Linked DNA regions of Homo sapiens. The protein of the gene in region 1 purifies or fractionates together with the protein of each later gene. This does not show direct contact. Each region holds a gene or a part of one and is shown on either strand. Other genes may lie near its edges.

What was found.
Region 2: the proteins of LETM1 (region 1) and ADCK5 purify together in Homo sapiens (affinity purification with mass spectrometry; one large-scale study listed by BioGRID and IntAct). This does not show direct contact.
Region 3: the proteins of LETM1 (region 1) and ATP5F1C fractionate together in Homo sapiens (co-fractionation; one large-scale study listed by BioGRID). This does not show direct contact.
Region 4: the proteins of LETM1 (region 1) and SMIM12 purify together in Homo sapiens (affinity purification with mass spectrometry; one large-scale study listed by BioGRID and IntAct). This does not show direct contact.

Annotation. Positions count from the first base shown.
Region 1 is NC_000004.12:1,845,383-1,850,473, forward strand, and holds part of LETM1 (mitochondrial proton/calcium exchanger protein precursor), read right to left. Parts: intron 3,828-5,091; coding exon 3,767-3,827; intron 1-3,766. UniProt on the Homo sapiens protein: Plays an important role in maintenance of mitochondrial morphology and in mediating either calcium or potassium/proton antiport. Mediates proton-dependent calcium efflux from mitochondrion.
Region 2 is NC_000008.11:144,372,585-144,376,846, reverse strand, and holds the start of ADCK5 (uncharacterized aarF domain-containing protein kinase 5), read right to left. Parts: upstream 2,801-4,262; 5' UTR 2,752-2,800; coding exon 2,740-2,751; intron 2,022-2,739; exon of another isoform or gene 1,444-2,021; coding exon of another isoform or gene 1,210-1,443; intron 1-1,209. UniProt on the Homo sapiens protein: The function of this protein is not yet clear. It is not known if it has protein kinase activity and what type of substrate it would phosphorylate (Ser, Thr or Tyr).
Region 3 is NC_000010.11:7,798,177-7,801,676, forward strand, and holds part of ATP5F1C (ATP synthase F(1) complex subunit gamma, mitochondrial isoform L (liver) precursor), read left to right. Parts: intron 1-813; coding exon 814-1,018; intron 1,019-1,254; exon of another isoform or gene 1,255-1,325; intron 1,326-1,595; coding exon 1,596-1,739; intron 1,740-1,850; coding exon 1,851-1,915; intron 1,916-3,500.
Region 4 is NC_000001.11:34,853,306-34,856,749, reverse strand, and holds part of SMIM12 (small integral membrane protein 12), read left to right. Parts: intron 1-10; exon of another isoform or gene 11-194; intron 195-767; coding exon of another isoform or gene 768-772; coding exon 773-1,051; 3' UTR 1,052-3,444.

The DNA.
Region 1 (5,091 bases):
ATCACCTGAGGTCAGGAGTTCGAGATGAGCCTGGCCAATGTGGTGAAAACTTTGTATTTTTGTACTAAAAATGCAAAGGTGTTTATATTGTGTGACCAAATAAAAAGTAAAATTTTTTGGCTGCTGAAACATTACCACCATCCATAATTCTTTTTTCTTTTTTTTTTCTTTTTTTTTTTTTTCGAGACACAGTTTTGCTCTGTCATCCAGGCTGGAGTGCAGTGGCACAATCTGGGCTCACTGCAACCTCCACCTTCCAGGTTCACGAAGTTCTCCTGCCTCAGCCACCAAGTAGCTGGGATTATAGGCATGTGCCACCACGCCCAGGTAATTTTTGTATTTTTAGTAGAGATGAAGTTTCGCCATGTTGGCCAGGCTGGTCTTGAACTCCTAACCTCAAGTGATCTGCCCGCCTCGGATTACAGGCATGAGATTACAGGCATGAGCCGCTGCACCTTGCCTCATCCATAATTATTATATTATTATTTTTTTTGAGACAGACTCTCCCTCAGTTGCCCAGGCTGGAGTGCAGCGGTGTGATCCTGGCTCACGGCAACCTCCACCTCCTGGGTTCAAGGGATTCTCCTGCCTCAGCCTCCCAAGTACCTGGGACTACAGGCGCGCACCATCACACCCAGTTATTTTTGTATTTTTAGTAGAGATGGGGTTTCACCATGTTGGCCAGGCTGGTCTTGAACTTCTGGCCTCAAGTGATCTGCCCACCTCAACTTTCCAAAGTGCTGGGATTAGAGACGTGAGCCACTGCGCCCGGCCTCATCCATAATTCTTGATAAGTAGACAAGTCCATCAAAACAGCTGTACAGTCCTCATTGTTTAAATTTTTAAGTAGATGTTCAAAATTGGGAACTTTAAAAAAAGTTACGTGAATAAAGTACAGCTTTTATGTTTTGTTGTTAGCCCAGGCTGGAGTACAGTGGCGCCATCTTGGCTCACTGCAACTGCCACCTCCCGGGTCCCGGTTCAAGCAATTCTCCTGCCTCAGCCTCCTGAGTAGCTGGGATTACAAGAACATACCACCATGCCCAGCTGATTTTTGTATTTTTATTAGAGATGGGGTTTCACCATGTTGGCTAGGCTGGTCTTGAACTCTTGACCTCGTGATCTTCCCGACTCAGCCTCCAAAAGTGTTGGGATTACAGGTGTGAGCCACCGTGCCCGGCCAGCATTTATGTTTTAGTATGAAATTTAAATGCTAAAAAGTTGCTTGACAAATTCAACATCCATTCCTAATAAAAAGAGTAACAGACAGAACAAAGATTACTTAAACCCAAAAGCTAACATCATATGTCACAAACACTAGATCCTGTATTTTCTGCTATTGTGATACCGCATGACTGACTACAGCTGTTCTGACACAGATCTGGCTACTGAGCTAAGAAATGAAACCACCTCAGAAGCAGAAGCCCTGGGAAAGAAGAGGCAGATGATTACTATGTACTAAGATCACAGCCATAAACTAAACCTGGGCTGCTACAAGAGCTGAACAAATAACAGGAAAGGGGCCAGATACAAGAAAATTGTACAACTTAGCAACTTACGGGACAGCAATGATCACTTAGAAAAGATAATGAAAAGAATTAATGAAAATAATAAACATCTGGGAATTATCTAAAATGCAATGCATGTGGCCTATACAAAGAAAACAGGCCGGGTGCAGTGGCTCACACCTGTAATCCCAGCACTTTGGGAGGCCAAAGGCAGGAGGACTGCTTGAGTCCAGGAGTTCAAGAGCAGCCTGGACAACATAGTGAGAACCTGTCTCTACAAAAAATACCAAAAAGAAAAAAATTTAGCAAGGCATGTTGGTAATGCCTGTAGTCCCAGCTACTCAGGAGGCTAAGGTGGGAGAATGGCTTGAGCCTGGGAGATCAAAGCTGCAGTGAGCCATGATTGCACCACTGCACTCTAGCCTGGGCAATGAACAGAATGAGATCCTGTCTCAAAAAAAAAAAAAAAAGTAATATTCCTTCCCAACTGGTTTAATGACACTTCAGATACAATCCCAAAAAGACTGTTTTAGAAGTAAAATGGTTCAGCTCATCTAGAAGGAAGGTCCAGACTGACGAGGTTTGGGGGAACTGGTCCCCAGGGAGGAACAACTGCTGGAGAACTCACTAAAGAAAATAACGGGAGCAGCTAGGCGCAGTGGCTCACACCTGTAATCCCAGCACTTTGGGAGGCCGAGGTAGGTGGATCATCTGAGGTCAGGAGTTTGAGATGAGCCTGGCTAATGTGGTGAAAATTTTGTACTTTTGTACTAAAAATGCAAAAATTAGCTGGGTGTGGTGGCGGCGTCTCTAATCCCAGCTACTAGGGAGGCTGAGGCAGGAGAATCGCTTGAACCCGGGAGGCAGAGGTTGCAGTGAGCCGAGATTGCACCACTGCACTCTAGCCTAGGTGACAAGAACAAAACTCGGTCTCAAAAAAAAAAAAAAAAAAAAAAAATTAGCTGGGTGTGGTGTGCGCGCCTGTAATCCCAGCTACTTGGGAGGCTGAGGCAGATAACTGCTTGAACCCGGGAGGTGGAGATTGCAGTGGGCAGAGATCACGCCACTGCATTCCAGCTTGGTGACAGCGCGAGACTCTGTCTCAAAAAAAATAAAAATAAAAAAAAAAAAGAAAATGCAACCTTAAGGAAAAAGACATAAGAAAACCAATTTCTTTTCTCATCCAAAGTTATAATAAAACGTTATTCGTGGACCTTAAAGTTGCAGTTTCTGCCAGGCATGGTGGCTCACACCTATAATCCCAGCACTTTGGGAGGCTAAGGCAGGCAGATCACGGGAGGTCAGGAGTTCAAGACCAGCCTGGCCAACATGGTGAAACCCCGTCTCTAATAAAAATACAAAAATTAGCCAGGTGCGGCCGGACGCGGTGGCTCATGCCTGTAATCCCAGCACTTTGGGAGGCCATGGCGGGCGGATCACGAGGTCAGGAGATTGAGACCATCCTGGCTAACACGGTGAAACCCCATCTCTACTAAAAATACAAAAAATTAGCCGGGCGTGGTGGCGGGCGCCTGTAGTTCCAGCTACTTGGGAGGCTGAGGCAGGAGGATGGCATGAACCCGGGAGGTGGATCTTGCAGTGAGCTGATATTGCGCCACTGCACTCCAGCCTGGGTGACAGAGCGAGACTCCGTCTCAAAAAAAAAAAAAAAAAAATTAGCCAGGCGCAGTGAGGCATGCCTGCAATCCCAGCTACTCGGGAGGTTGAAGCAGGAGAATCACTTGAACCTGGGAGGCGGAGGTTGCAGTGAGCCAAGCATGTGCCACTGCACTCCAGTCTGGGTGACAGAGCAAGGCTCTGTCTCAAAAAAAAAAAAAAAAAAAAAGAAAAAAAAAAAGTCGCAGTTTCCAAGAACCTACAGACATTAAATGAGACTTGCTGTACATCAAAATACTGACACTGGGCACTTTGAGGGCACAGTTGCCAGTGCCCACTCCAACTGGGAGTCCAACAATTAAATTCCATTTAATTCCTGTTAGGGGACAGGAAGCCTTCTGTCCCCAGCTCTCCAAGTGCAACTGGGCACTGAGGTTAGGAATGTTTCTATACTGTCTATAGATTCACTGAGGCATGTGACAATCATTTTCAAAATGGAAAGATAAAGGTTTAAAAGAAACAAAGAACAGGAAAGTAGGATACACTGTTTCCCTCAAAAATCAAGAGTCACTCGTGACTCTCCACCATTTTCAAACCCTGTTTTCAAACAGACAGGTGCAGAGTGATACTGATTTACTCACAGGCAGTTCCTCAACCCCAGGGTGCTGGCACAGCTGAGATGAGCAGGATCCCCTGGACTACCTGTAACAGGAACAGGGGAAAATAAATGAGTAGTAAATCAGGGATTTATACTGATACCTTTTTTTGTTGTTGGTTTTTGGAGTTTCGCTCTTGCGCCCAGGCTAGAGTGCAATGGCGTGATCTCGGCTCACTGCAACCTCCACCTCCTGGGTTTAATTGATTCTCCTGCCTCAGCCTCCTGAGTAGCTGGAATTACAGGTGCCCACCACCATGCCCAGCTAATTTTTTTTTTTTAGTAGAGACAGGGTTTCATTCACCATGTTGGCCAGGCTGGTCTCAAACTGCCGACCTCAGGTGATCCGCCCGCCTTGGCCTCCCAAAGTGCTGGGATTACAGGCATGAGCCACCGTGCTCAGCCTTTTGTTCATTTTGATTTATTTGACTTTGCCCAGGCTGGAATGCAGTGGTACAGTCACGGCTCCCTGCAGCCTTGAACTCCTGGGCTCAAGGGATCCTTTTGCCTCAGCCTCCCAAGTAGCTGGGACTACAGGTGTGCACCATCAGGCCAGGCTAATTTTTGTAAAGACGGGGTTTCGTTTTGTTGCCTAGGCTGGTCTCCAACTTTTGGCCTCGAGCGACCCTCCTGCATTGGTCTCCCAAAGTGTTGGGATTACAGGCGTGAGCCACCACTCCCAGCCTGAAACCTTCTTTTAAGTCTGAAAGAAGGCGGGGCGCCGTGGCTCACGCCTGTAATCCCAGCACTTTGGGAGGCAAAGGCGAGTGGATCACCTGAGGCCAGGAGTTCAAGACCAGCTTGACCAGCGGTGAAACCTCATCCCTACTAAAAATACAAAATTAGCCGGGTATGGTGGCACATGCTTGTAAACCCAGCTACTTGGGAGGCTGAGTCAGGAGAATAGCTTGAACCTGGGAGGCAAAGGTTGCAGTGAGCTGAGATCGCACCATTGCACTCCAGCCTGGGCAACAAGAGTGAAACTCCGTCTCAAAAAGAAAAAAAAAATCTGAAAGAGTACAGATCTCTTTTGTAGAAACCTCTGTAAGTTTCTGGAAGCCAGTTCTGAGTGTTGGAAGGTTTCAGAGCACTGCTAAGTGAAGGGTCTGCCCCAGTTATGAAAACAGTATCTCAAAGTAGTCCTAAAAAAAGATGGGAAGCCTCAAGTAGATCCTGACTCCAGACACCCCAAGAGGGAAGCCAAGCAGGCCAGCCCTAGGGAGGGAGCACTCCTACCGGTGGCACCATCCCCACTCACTTCAGCTGGCTCTGGTGGAAACATGACCTCTATGCAGACAGCCCTATAGAGCA
Region 2 (4,262 bases), on another chromosome or scaffold:
AGGCGGGCCATCCACCTGCTGCCTACCCAGCCTGCACCTCCTGACCCTAGCCACCTCTGGTGCCAGTGCATGCATGGCTAGAGGCCCCGAGATCAGGCAGTCGTGCCCACGGACTGTGGAGAGACTCTGAACAGCAGCTCGTAAGTGGCTGCAAGGGAGCTACCTCCAGGTGGCTATCCCAGCCACTGCCCACCTCATCCATGACCAGCAACGCAAGCTGTTTCCACAGGCTCCACCAAACAGGTGAGGCCAGGAAAGTCATGGCTGGCTGACTGCTGTCTCCAACAACAGTTTTCTGCTCTTTCCTCAGGAACCAGCATTGCAGAAGGGGCTCCAGCTGCGTCTCTCACTCCCATTCTTATCCAGGACAGAGATCCCTCCAGTAGACCCCGGGCCACCATCACCCTACCCTGGTCCACCAGCAGCCTTGCTCATGCTCACGTCCCGCTCCACCTTGTTCACCGTGGTCCTATCCTGCCACTGTCCTCATCACACACCAGCGTGACTGTCAACTTACGGAATCTGTCCTCCCACTAGACTGTGAGCAGGGCCACCTCTCAACCATCTCTGAACAAGCAGGCACTCAATGAATGCCTGCCGAATGAGACCAACAGCTGTGAAGCACAGGACTCAATTGAACCCCACATGGCCCTGCCAAGCAACAGGCACTGATAACCCACAGTGCCTGCCAGGGCCCATGAGGCTGAGCAAGAGCCTGTCTCCTCCAAATGTGGAGCGCCCAGCACACCCAGACTATCCTCTCTGAAATTCCCATCACACAGGAGAGGTCCCCAAGGCCCAGAGAGGTTATGGGTTGGGGGGCGAGCCTGCAGCTGCATCTCCCAGAAGGACTTCCCAGAGCCCAATCCAGGGCAATTCTCACGTGACACACAGCCCCAACCGCACCCAGAACACGACCTCTAAACTGCCAGAAGATAAGCCGTCTTTTAGACGGTGGGTCCCCAGGGCCTTCCCCCAACACACCTGAGACGGCCCTGGTGACACTTATCCCTGCAGCTCCCCTGACTTCCAAAGCCTTCCAGTTTGGACAAGATGAAACGGGTGCCCCCTGTCAGAACCTCTCATGCTTTCTTATGGTGAGTGTGTGCAGTCTGTCTGCACAAACGGAAACACCTCCCGTTCCAGAGTGACTCTAGACCACAGCTGACTACCTTGAAAGCGGCAAGTATTCTGAGTGGTAACACTCACACAGGTATCATGAAGTTCACAACCAAAGGGCGTGCTTTGGCCGCAGAACCACATGCATGTCCGATCGTGTCTGGTTTTCCAGCGCCTGCAGATGAGGAGGATGCAGCTCCCACAGACAGGCCCGGCCGCAGCAGTGAGAAGCAACTGCCGAGTCTCAGAATGATGCCAGAAACTAAAAACCATGAACGGATGACCAGAGCCTGGGGAACCCAACAGCACTGTGCACCTCAACATGAGGGGAAACTGAGGCACATAATTGTCCCCAAAGTTAGGAAGAGACAGATTGGGAGTCTGGGCAGGGTAAGTGGGTCTGGCGACCACAGACACTGTCCTTCTCCCAGGGTGTGTGACCCTGTCAGCCCCAGCCAGTCCTCAAACGCCGCCTGGACCCAGCCCTGCTCACTGGCCATGAGCAGCTCCTAACCAGAGGCTAAACCGACCTGTCCACTCGCTGGGGCTGGGGAGGGACTGAGTGGCCTGCACGTGGGAAGACTTTGTCACCTGGAAGGAGCTGCACTGAAGGCCACCTCCCCGGCCCATGAAGCACCCTGGGGTCACACAGCTGGGCTGGGGCACGAGTGGGCCGTCCATCTGTGCTATTTATAGCCAGACGGGCAAGGCTAGCTTATCGCCAAACACAAGCTCTGCTGACATTCCAAGAAAAAAAGGAACGGCGCTGGGAGCCCCTTCATCTCTTCTGGAAGGGGGTGGGTAAGATGCGTGTCAAGGCCTCTGCCCCGCCCCCCCGCAGTCCTAACCGCAGGGACAGAGCAACGGGACCCGGCGGCGACGTGGGAGCGGGGAGACGCCGAGAGCCTGAGAGAGGGGGCCTCGGAGCCATGGGGGGCGCGCCCCTGAGACGACGCAGGGGCGCTCAGAGCAGAGCCCGGCCTGCAGCCCCCGCCCGCCCGCCGCCTCAGGGCAGGGCAGGCCCGGCGGGGAGGCGAGCGAAGGAGGTCCGGGGCAGCAGGCTGGGCAGGGAGGCGTCCGTGATTCCGGGAGGCCGCCTCGCGAGGGGAACGGCGCCTGAGGCTTCCCCGCGGGGCCCCTGCCCTCTGGAGATCGCGCTCTCCGGGGCGCCGGGCACCCGCCTCCGGGCTGGGCGGAGGGGCCCCTGCGGCTCCCGGTGCAGGCGGCGTCAGGGCTGCGGGCGCGGCTCCCGCCTGAAATCCCAGCTCTCGGGGAGGCTGAGGCGGGCGGATCGCTAGAGCCCAGGAATTCGAGACCAGCCTGAGCAACACGGCGAGACCCCGACTCTGCTAAACAGAGTCGGCCGGGAGCGGTCACGCCTGCGGTGTCAGCTACTTGCGGGGCCGAGGCGGGAGGATCGCCTGAGTCCGGGAGGCGGAAGCTGCGGTGAGCGGAGATCGCACCACTGCGCTCCAGGGCGACAGAGCGAGACCCTGCCTCAAAAAAAAAGAGGGAAAAAGCCCCGAGGGTCTCTAGGGCGGGGTCTGGGGACTTGCGGGTCTCGGGTCTCTGGGGCTGGTGTGCAGGATCTCGGGCGCCCCGGGCCGGGAGAGTCCTCACCGGTCGCCACATCTCCGACCACTGCTCCGCTCTTCTCCCGCCCGGCGCCGCTTAGCGTCTCGCAGCCCAGCAGGCCCTGCGGGAGGGCGCGTAGTGCGCACGCGCCGGAGCCAGAGCCCCGCCCCGTGGGCGGTGGGCGAGGCTGGAGGCCACGCCCCGAGTCGTGCCGGCCTCCGCGGCGGGGCAGCGTCCCCTGGCGGCCCCCAGAGGCTTACCTTTTGGCGCCCGGACCGCGCCTCCTGAGAGCGGAGGGTTCCAGTCCCGCCCTCGGCGCACTGCGCATTCCCCGGGCAGGCACCTGCCGGAAGGACCGCTGTGAGAAGCACGTGGATAATCCGGGGAGGGCTGAGGGCTTCCTGAGGTCCTCACGGCCCGGTATCCGCCTCTCTTTAACACTCCGTGCTATAGTGTGATTAGCGTGAATCTCTTTAACCTCAGGACTCCAACTCACCACCTGCCTGTGTGAGGGCCAAGATGACGCCCCTGACTGGGAACTGGAAGACAACCAGGAGAGTGGCCAAAGGGGTCCTGGAGCAGCTCCCGTGCCCATGGGGAGACCTTCCCAGGGCCAGGGCTTCAGATTCTGGGGTTCACTTTGCAGCCACCCTTGGTCCCTGTCACTTAGCTTCTTATGGGAACGTCAGTGACGTCACAGCCTCCTGCAGTGCCCTAGGCTGCTGCTACTCACTCTGTGACAGCCCTGGCTGGGTAGGGGCCCAGGCCCGGGCATGCCATGCAGCCAGCAAGGCTACTGCTGGACTGACGACCTCACCGCTACTAGACTGACCTCACCGCTACTAGACTGACCTCACTGCTACTAGACTGACCTCACCGCTGCTGGACTGACCTCACCGTCCCCGAACATGCCAGGGATCCTCGGGCGCCAACACGGGTCCTGGCACTTACTGCCTGCAAGCCCTCCTAGACCCCACTGTGAGCATGAAACAAAACACCATCCTTGTGGAATCCACGAGGGCTCCTGAGTCAGCTTGGCCTAAGGGTGCCACAGTAGCTGAAAGTGGGAGGTTTTCAGGCCTCAAGGCCTTTTCACAACTCTCAGAAGTGGCCCCTCCTCCTCCCACCAATGGCCCCTCCTCCTCCCACCAGTGGCCCCTCCTCCTCCCACCAGTGGCCCCTCCTCCGCCCACAAGTGGCCCCTCCTCCTCCCACCAGTGGCCCCTCCTCCTCCCACCAGTGGCCCCTCCTCCTCCCACCAGTGACCCCTCCTCCGCCCACAAGTGGCCCCTCCTCCTCCCACAAGTGGCCCCTCCTCCTCCCACATGGCTCCTCGTCCTCATCTTCTTACAGTCCTCTTGCTCCTCCCACTGGGACTGAACCCAAAGGCATCTCTTCAATGGGGTGGTCCCTGCCTAGGGAAAGCCGGTGCCTCCAGCCCTTTAGTGCCCCTTCTGTTATGGCGTGTCTCCTGTGAAGTCTCTGTCATCCCCAAGGTCAAGTTTGCTGGGCTCAATGATTCTGTGTGCCCTGCATCACTTTGCTAGCAGGACAGGGATTGGCCTCCA
Region 3 (3,500 bases), on another chromosome or scaffold:
AGCTGTCCTTTGTTTTTTTATGTGTGTGTGTGTGTTTTGTTGTTGTTTTTTGTTTGTTTTCTTTTTGTGTTTTTTTTTGAGATGGAGTCTCATTCTGTTGCCCAGGCTAGAGTGCAATGGTGCAATCTCAGCTCACTACAACCTCCCCCTCCCAGGCTCAAGCGATTCTCCTGCCTCAGCCTCCCCAGTAGCTGGGATTAACAGGCCCCCACCATCACACCTGGCTAATTTTTGTATTTTTTTTTTCTGAGTCGGAGTCTAGCTCTGTCTCCCGGGATGGAGTGCAGTGGCATAATCTCAGCTTGCTGCAAGCTCTGCCTCCCGGGTTCACGCCATTCTCCTGCCTCAGCCTCCCAAGTAGCTGGGGCTACAGGCGCCCGCCACCACGCCTGGCTAATTTTTTTGTATTTTTTAGTAGAGACGGGGTTTCACCGTGGTCTTGATATCGTGACCTTGTGATCCGCCCGCCTTGGCCTCCCAAAGTGCTGGGATTACAGACGTGAGCCACCGTGCCCAGCCAATTTTTATATTTTTAATAGAGACGGGATTTCACTACGTTGGCCAGGCCGGTCTCAAACTCCTGACCTCAGGTGATCCGCCCACCTCGGCCTCCCAAAGTGCTGGGATTACAGGCGTGAGCCACTGTGCCCGGCCTCAGCTTACAGCTGTCCTAAGAACACCTGCTTACACTAGGCAGTTGCCAGCTAAATTTAAATGCGTATTTTGGAAATAACCAACTGCTTTGTAAATTAGAGATTTATTGTATTTAGTGTATTGCATATAAAAAAATTACTGCTTTTGTTTGTTTTTAAGCTCTGTATGAAAAAGCTGATATCAAGGGGCCTGAAGACAAGAAGAAACACCTCCTTATTGGTGTGTCCTCAGATCGAGGACTGTGTGGTGCTATTCATTCCTCCATTGCTAAACAGATGAAAAGCGAGGTTGCTACACTAACAGCAGCTGGGAAAGAAGTTATGCTTGTTGGAATTGGTGACAAAATCAGAGGCATACTTTATAGGTAATTTAAATATATATTGTTTATTTTCATAAAGATGTAAGCACGAATAAATCTTCTCTCAAAAGTTTTGACAAACTCTCAAAACCTTCATCAATAACAAGGTATATTCTTCAGGGCCTTTTTTGGTATATTCACAAGGGGGTGTTTGTTTCCTTTTTCTTTTTTCCAGGATATATTGGAACATTTCTGTTTTCCTTCCCCTGTTTTCTACCTTTGCTTCTTCATCCGGATCATAAGTTGAATGCCATGTGAATATCAAAAGCTATCAGCATTAAGCCAAATGAGGCATCTGAGGAGCTGTTACAGCCTGGAAATGTTAGCAATAGTTCATTAGGATTAGAAGGAGAGGAATAAAGGGGAAAAGAATATAAAACAGACCTCATTTTTAGTTCTTAGTTCTTTGCAGGTGCTGAAGGAAAGGAATGATGATAGTGTGTGGAACAACTCAGGAAATCACCACCACCCATACCCCAAAAGACCTGATCCATGGTGACAATGTTTTCTCCTGCCTGTCCCCTGTGCTCTTTCAGCAGAAATCTTATTAAACTAGCTATGTGAGCTCTTGCTTTTCTTATAGGACTCATTCTGACCAGTTTCTGGTGGCATTCAAAGAAGTGGGAAGAAAGCCCCCCACTTTTGGAGATGCGTCAGTCATTGCCCTTGAATTACTAAATTCTGGATATGAATTTGATGAAGGCTCCATCATCTTTAATAAATTCAGGCAAGACAGATTTAGAAATCAAAGCTTTTTTATGTTCATGCTTTTGTTCATATTTTGAAATAACAGTTTAAAAATTATTTTGAGATTTACATTTGTTTTTGTCAATTCTAGGTCTGTCATCTCCTATAAGACAGAAGAAAAGCCCATCTTTTCCCTTAATACCGTTGCAAGTGCTGGTAAGTAGTTTTTCTATGATACATATTTTTTGGCATATAGAATGGAGAGATTTGTACACTAAGGCAGACAGTGTCAAGATATCTGGTGGTAGCTATAGCAAATGATTTGGGGCTGTTTCTTTTTTAGATGGAATCTTGCTGCCTCCCAGGCTGGAGTGCAGTGGCACCATCTCGGCTCACTGCAAGTTCCGCCTCCTGGGTTCACACCATTCTCCTGCCTCAGCCTCCCTAGTACCTGGGACTACAGGCACCCGCCACCAAGCCTGGCTAATTTTTTGTATTTTTAGTAGAGACGGGGTTTCACCATGTTAGCCAGGATGGTCTCAATCTCCTGACCTCGTGATCCACCCGCCTCGGCCTCCCAAAGTGCTGGGATTACAGGCATGAGCCCAGCCTTTTATTTTTTTATTTTTTATTTTTTGAGACGGAGTCTCACTGTGTCACCCAGGCTGAAGTGCAATGGCATGATCTCGGCTCACTGCAACCTTCGCCTCCCGGGTTCACGCCGTTCTCCTGCCTCAGCCTCCCAAGTAGCTGGGATTACAGGTGCACGCCACCACGCCTGGCTAATTTTTGTATTTTTAGTAGAGACAGCATTTCACCGTGTTCGCCAGGCTGGTCTTGAACTCCTGCCCTCAAGTGATCCACCTGCCTTGGCCTTCCAAAGTGCTGGGATTACAGGCATGAGCCACTGCACCCGGCCGATCTGGGGCTGTTTCTGAGAAGTGCCATCTCTTGACTTCCATGATACTTAATTCAGTCATTGTTTGATAACTCCTGCTCTATTCTGTCATTAATTGAAAAGTCAGTATCTATTGAGGTTCATCATTAGATTTTTTTGTCCTCAAGGATTGAAGAGCGTAGCTAGAAACTGGCTTTGCAAGTTATGTTTGGGACCTCTAACTACAATAAAACAGAAGCTCTAGAATAGAGAGTTGAACAGTGTTCACAGCTAATTTACATTGACTGACTCAATTCTCTTGTTTTATTGTTGGAATAAAGTCATCATTGATCATTGAAGCATCCTGGAATAATATTCTGGAACTGATTTTAGTTTTCTAAGGCTTTTTTCCCTTGTATATACCATCTATTTTCTAATACTTCATTTATTTTCAAGTATGTACTTTACACGTTAATGTTTCTGAAATTGAGATGGCTCTACCAGCCAATGGAACATCATTTATAATTGAGTACATTTTTTTCTCTCTTAATGAGAAATAAAGTAGGTGTTACAACCAGTACCATTTAATGAAATATAGTATTTTGATAATATATAGTACTGTGTCACCACTTGACCCCAATGAATGAATTTTGAAATGTACTTCTAAATTTCTACAACATTAAAACTACGATTCATACCAATTTCTAGTTCTCCCACTCTTTCATGTGCTTTGAAAGGTTTTCCCTCTCTCATTTTCCAGATTGATACATTCAGATTTCTTCAGTAATCAAATGACTAAGTTGGAATTACTGCACAGGTTGAGTATCCCTTGTGTGAATGCTTAGGACCAGAAATGTTTGGGATTTCAGAATATTTTCATATTTATAATGCAGTATCTTGGGGACAGGACCTGAGTCTGTACAC
Region 4 (3,444 bases), on another chromosome or scaffold:
TTTACATGAGGAAAAGGAACGACTTTTCATATTGTGAAACCAGGAGATTCATCGTAGATTGTGTTTCATGGGGAAAAGGTGGCCGGCTGTGCTCATGGAGAAATTTCATAGAGCAGAGAAAGGCATCTTTTTCCCTTCTTGAAATGTTGGCAGACTAGGTCCTGGGGTCAACAATAGGCTTGAAGCTCTATTAGGTAAGGCTCAGAGGTCCCCTTGTGGGGAACATTGTCATATATTGGTGCACACTTGTCAAAGAGTACGGTCCGTAAAATGGAGATCCTTCCTTCTTCCCTAACAATGGAATCTTTTGAAATTTCCTAGATTATTTCAGGGATCCACCTCTCGCATTGCTCTGCACGGGGGTGGGTGCTCAGTAAATTGTGCCAGGCTGGCCAGGTGTGGTGGCTCACGCCTGTAATTCCAGCACTTTGGGAGGCTGAGGTGGGTGAATCACGAGGTCAGGAGTTCAAGACCAGCCTGACCAACATGGTGAAACCCTGTCTCTACTAAAAAAATACAGAAATTAGCTGTAATCCCAGCTACTTGGGAGGCTGAGGCAGATAATTGCTTGAACCTGGGAGGTGGAGGGTGCGGTGAGCTGAGATCGTGCCACTGCACTCCAGCCTGGGCGACAGAGCAAGACTCCGTCTCAAAAAAAAAAAAAAATTGTGCCAGGCTGCCTGGTAAGTGGAGAGCTCTAGTGGGTTGCTCTTATTTGGTGGGAGATGATGCTGGGTTCTCTAATGCTGCCTTGTGCTTTTCCGCAGATGTCATGTGGCCTGTGTTTTGGACCGTGGTTCGTACCTATGCTCCTTATGTCACATTCCCTGTTGCCTTCGTGGTCGGGGCTGTGGGTTACCACCTGGAATGGTTCATCAGGGGAAAGGACCCCCAGCCCGTGGAGGAGGAAAAGAGCATCTCAGAGCGCCGGGAGGATCGCAAGCTGGATGAGCTTCTAGGCAAGGACCACACGCAGGTGGTGAGCCTTAAGGACAAGCTAGAATTTGCCCCGAAAGCTGTGCTGAACAGAAACCGCCCAGAGAAGAATTAATGGAGGACACAGGGCCCTATGGTCCTACTGTGGGTGGTGACTTGTCCTGCTACCATGTTGACAGAGCCCCAGAACCCACATCTAATTGGCTTTGTTGCTTATTCTGGCCCTTCCCACACCACACAGCCACACAAATACTGGCTGCTCCTTGATGGCCAGGCAGACCCAGCAGCAGCCGAGGGGCCAGTGAAGAGGAAGGCCGCATCTGTTGTGTGGTGGCCACAAGCACTCAGGCATCTGAGTTTACTGGTGCACTGCTGGGAGGAGAGTTATGAGATGAACATTGGCTGTCAATCTCTGTGGGCAGGCGGTTTGGCCTCTAGTGGGAATGGCTGGGATTTGGGCGTTGCCTTTAGGAGGGATACCTGCATGTCTAGTTCCAGTCTGCACTGGAAAGAATTCAAATATGCACCTGGCTCCCTTCACTATTTTGCCCTATCCTTTGTGCTCATTCTTACTGAAATCTGTCTTGTCAGCTCAGGAATGGGATTCCCCCAGGAAGGAAAGCACTTTTCTGTTCTGGGAAGCCCAGACTGTTCACTTTGGGGCAGGGACGAACATGTGCCTCGTGAATTTGCTTGAAAACAGTCACCATCTTCTACCCCCATCACTGTATAGTGAAAAACCTGATTAAAGTGGTATCTGAGAACCATAATGATCGAATCTTATCATCCAGGTGGTATTTGGGGGTCTTCTTAGGAGTTAGGCAAGTACAGGCATTTTAGAGCAGGATAACATTGGTATTAAAGGGTGCCAAGGAGCCCTGGAAACTGCTTTACTAGTGCGGTTGCACTGAACCCTGGAGGCACAGATTCCCAGGAACCTTTTTACCATTATTACAATTGGCTGCAGCACCTTCAAGTCTAAATGGAGGTAGACCTCACATACACACACATAGACGCCTTTCCCTATAAAAGTATATACGCACATTCAAGAAAATTTGGTAGGGATTTTAAAAAGGTCACCCATGTTCCCAGCTCGTTAATAACAACCGTTAACATTTTGTTGTCTTTTACTAATTCTCTGCATAGGTTTTAGAGATAGTTATCATTACTGTACATTTAATTTTATATACTTTTCTCACTATTATCATTTTCCCATTTTACATGGTCATCATAATTGGTTTTTTGGAGACAGGGTCTCACTCTGTCACACAGGCTGGAGTGCAGTACAATTACGGCTCAGTGCAACCTTGACCTCCTGGGCTCAAGTGATCCTCTCACTTCAGCTCCTCAAGTAGATGGGACTACAGGAGTATGCCACCATGCCCAGCTAATTTTTTTATTTTTTTGTAGAACCAGGTCTCACTATGTTGCCCAGGCTAGTCTCAAACTCCTGGGCTCAAGTGATCCTCCGGCCTTGGCCTGTAGTTTCTTTTTTCTTTTTTTTTGGAGATGGACTCTCATTCTGTCACCCGGGCTGGAGTGCAGTGGCGTGATCTTGGCTGACTGCAACTTCTGCCTCCTGGGTTCAAGCGATTCTCCTACCTCAGCTTCCTAAGTAGCTGGGATTACAGGCGTGCGCCATCGTGCCTGGCTAGTTTTTGTGTTTTTAGTAAAGACAGGGGTTTCACCATCTTGGCCAGGCTGGTCTCGAACTCCTGACCTCAAGCGATCCCATCTGCCTCGGCCTCCCAAAGTGCTGGGATTACAGGTGTGAGGCACCGTGCCTGGCAGTCTGTAGTTTTTTTTTGTTGTTGTTGTTGTTGTTGTTTTAAATATGGAGTCTCGCTGTATTGCCCAGGCTGGAGTGCAGTGGCGCGATCTTGGTTCACTGCAACCTCCACCTCTTGGGTTCAAGCGATTCTCCTGCCTCAGCCTCCTGAGTAGCTGGGATTACAGGTGTGCGCCGCTACGCCTGGCTAATTTTTGTATTTTTAGTAGAGACAGGGTTTCACCATGTTGGTCAGGCTGGTCTCAAACTTCTGACCTTGTGATCTGCCTGCCTTGGCCTCCTAAAGTGCTGGGATTACAGGCGTGAGCCACCGTGCCTGGCTGTAGTTGTTTATAATAGCAACATAATTGTCTATCAAGTGGGAGTATGACATAAGTTTATCCTGGACAATTTCCATATTGCTGGACATTTGAATTGTTTCTGGTTGGTCACTCGTTTAGATACTGCAACGAATATCTTATATGAAGCTTTTCCTGCGTTTTGGAATAAACAGTAAAAATAGTAAATGTCATTTTGGATGAAATGGGATAAATGAGCAGTTTTGAGGATCTCATGCATAACACCAAATGTCTTTCCAAAAGGGCTCTAGGAGTTTCTACTAAATCTTACCACTGAAGACGTTGCTGGTAAGGCTGTGAGGGGAGTAAAAGCAGAGAGCAGGAAGAAGCATAAGAAGCTGTTGCCTCTTGAAGCCTACTGATGTTTAACTAAAGTCAGCA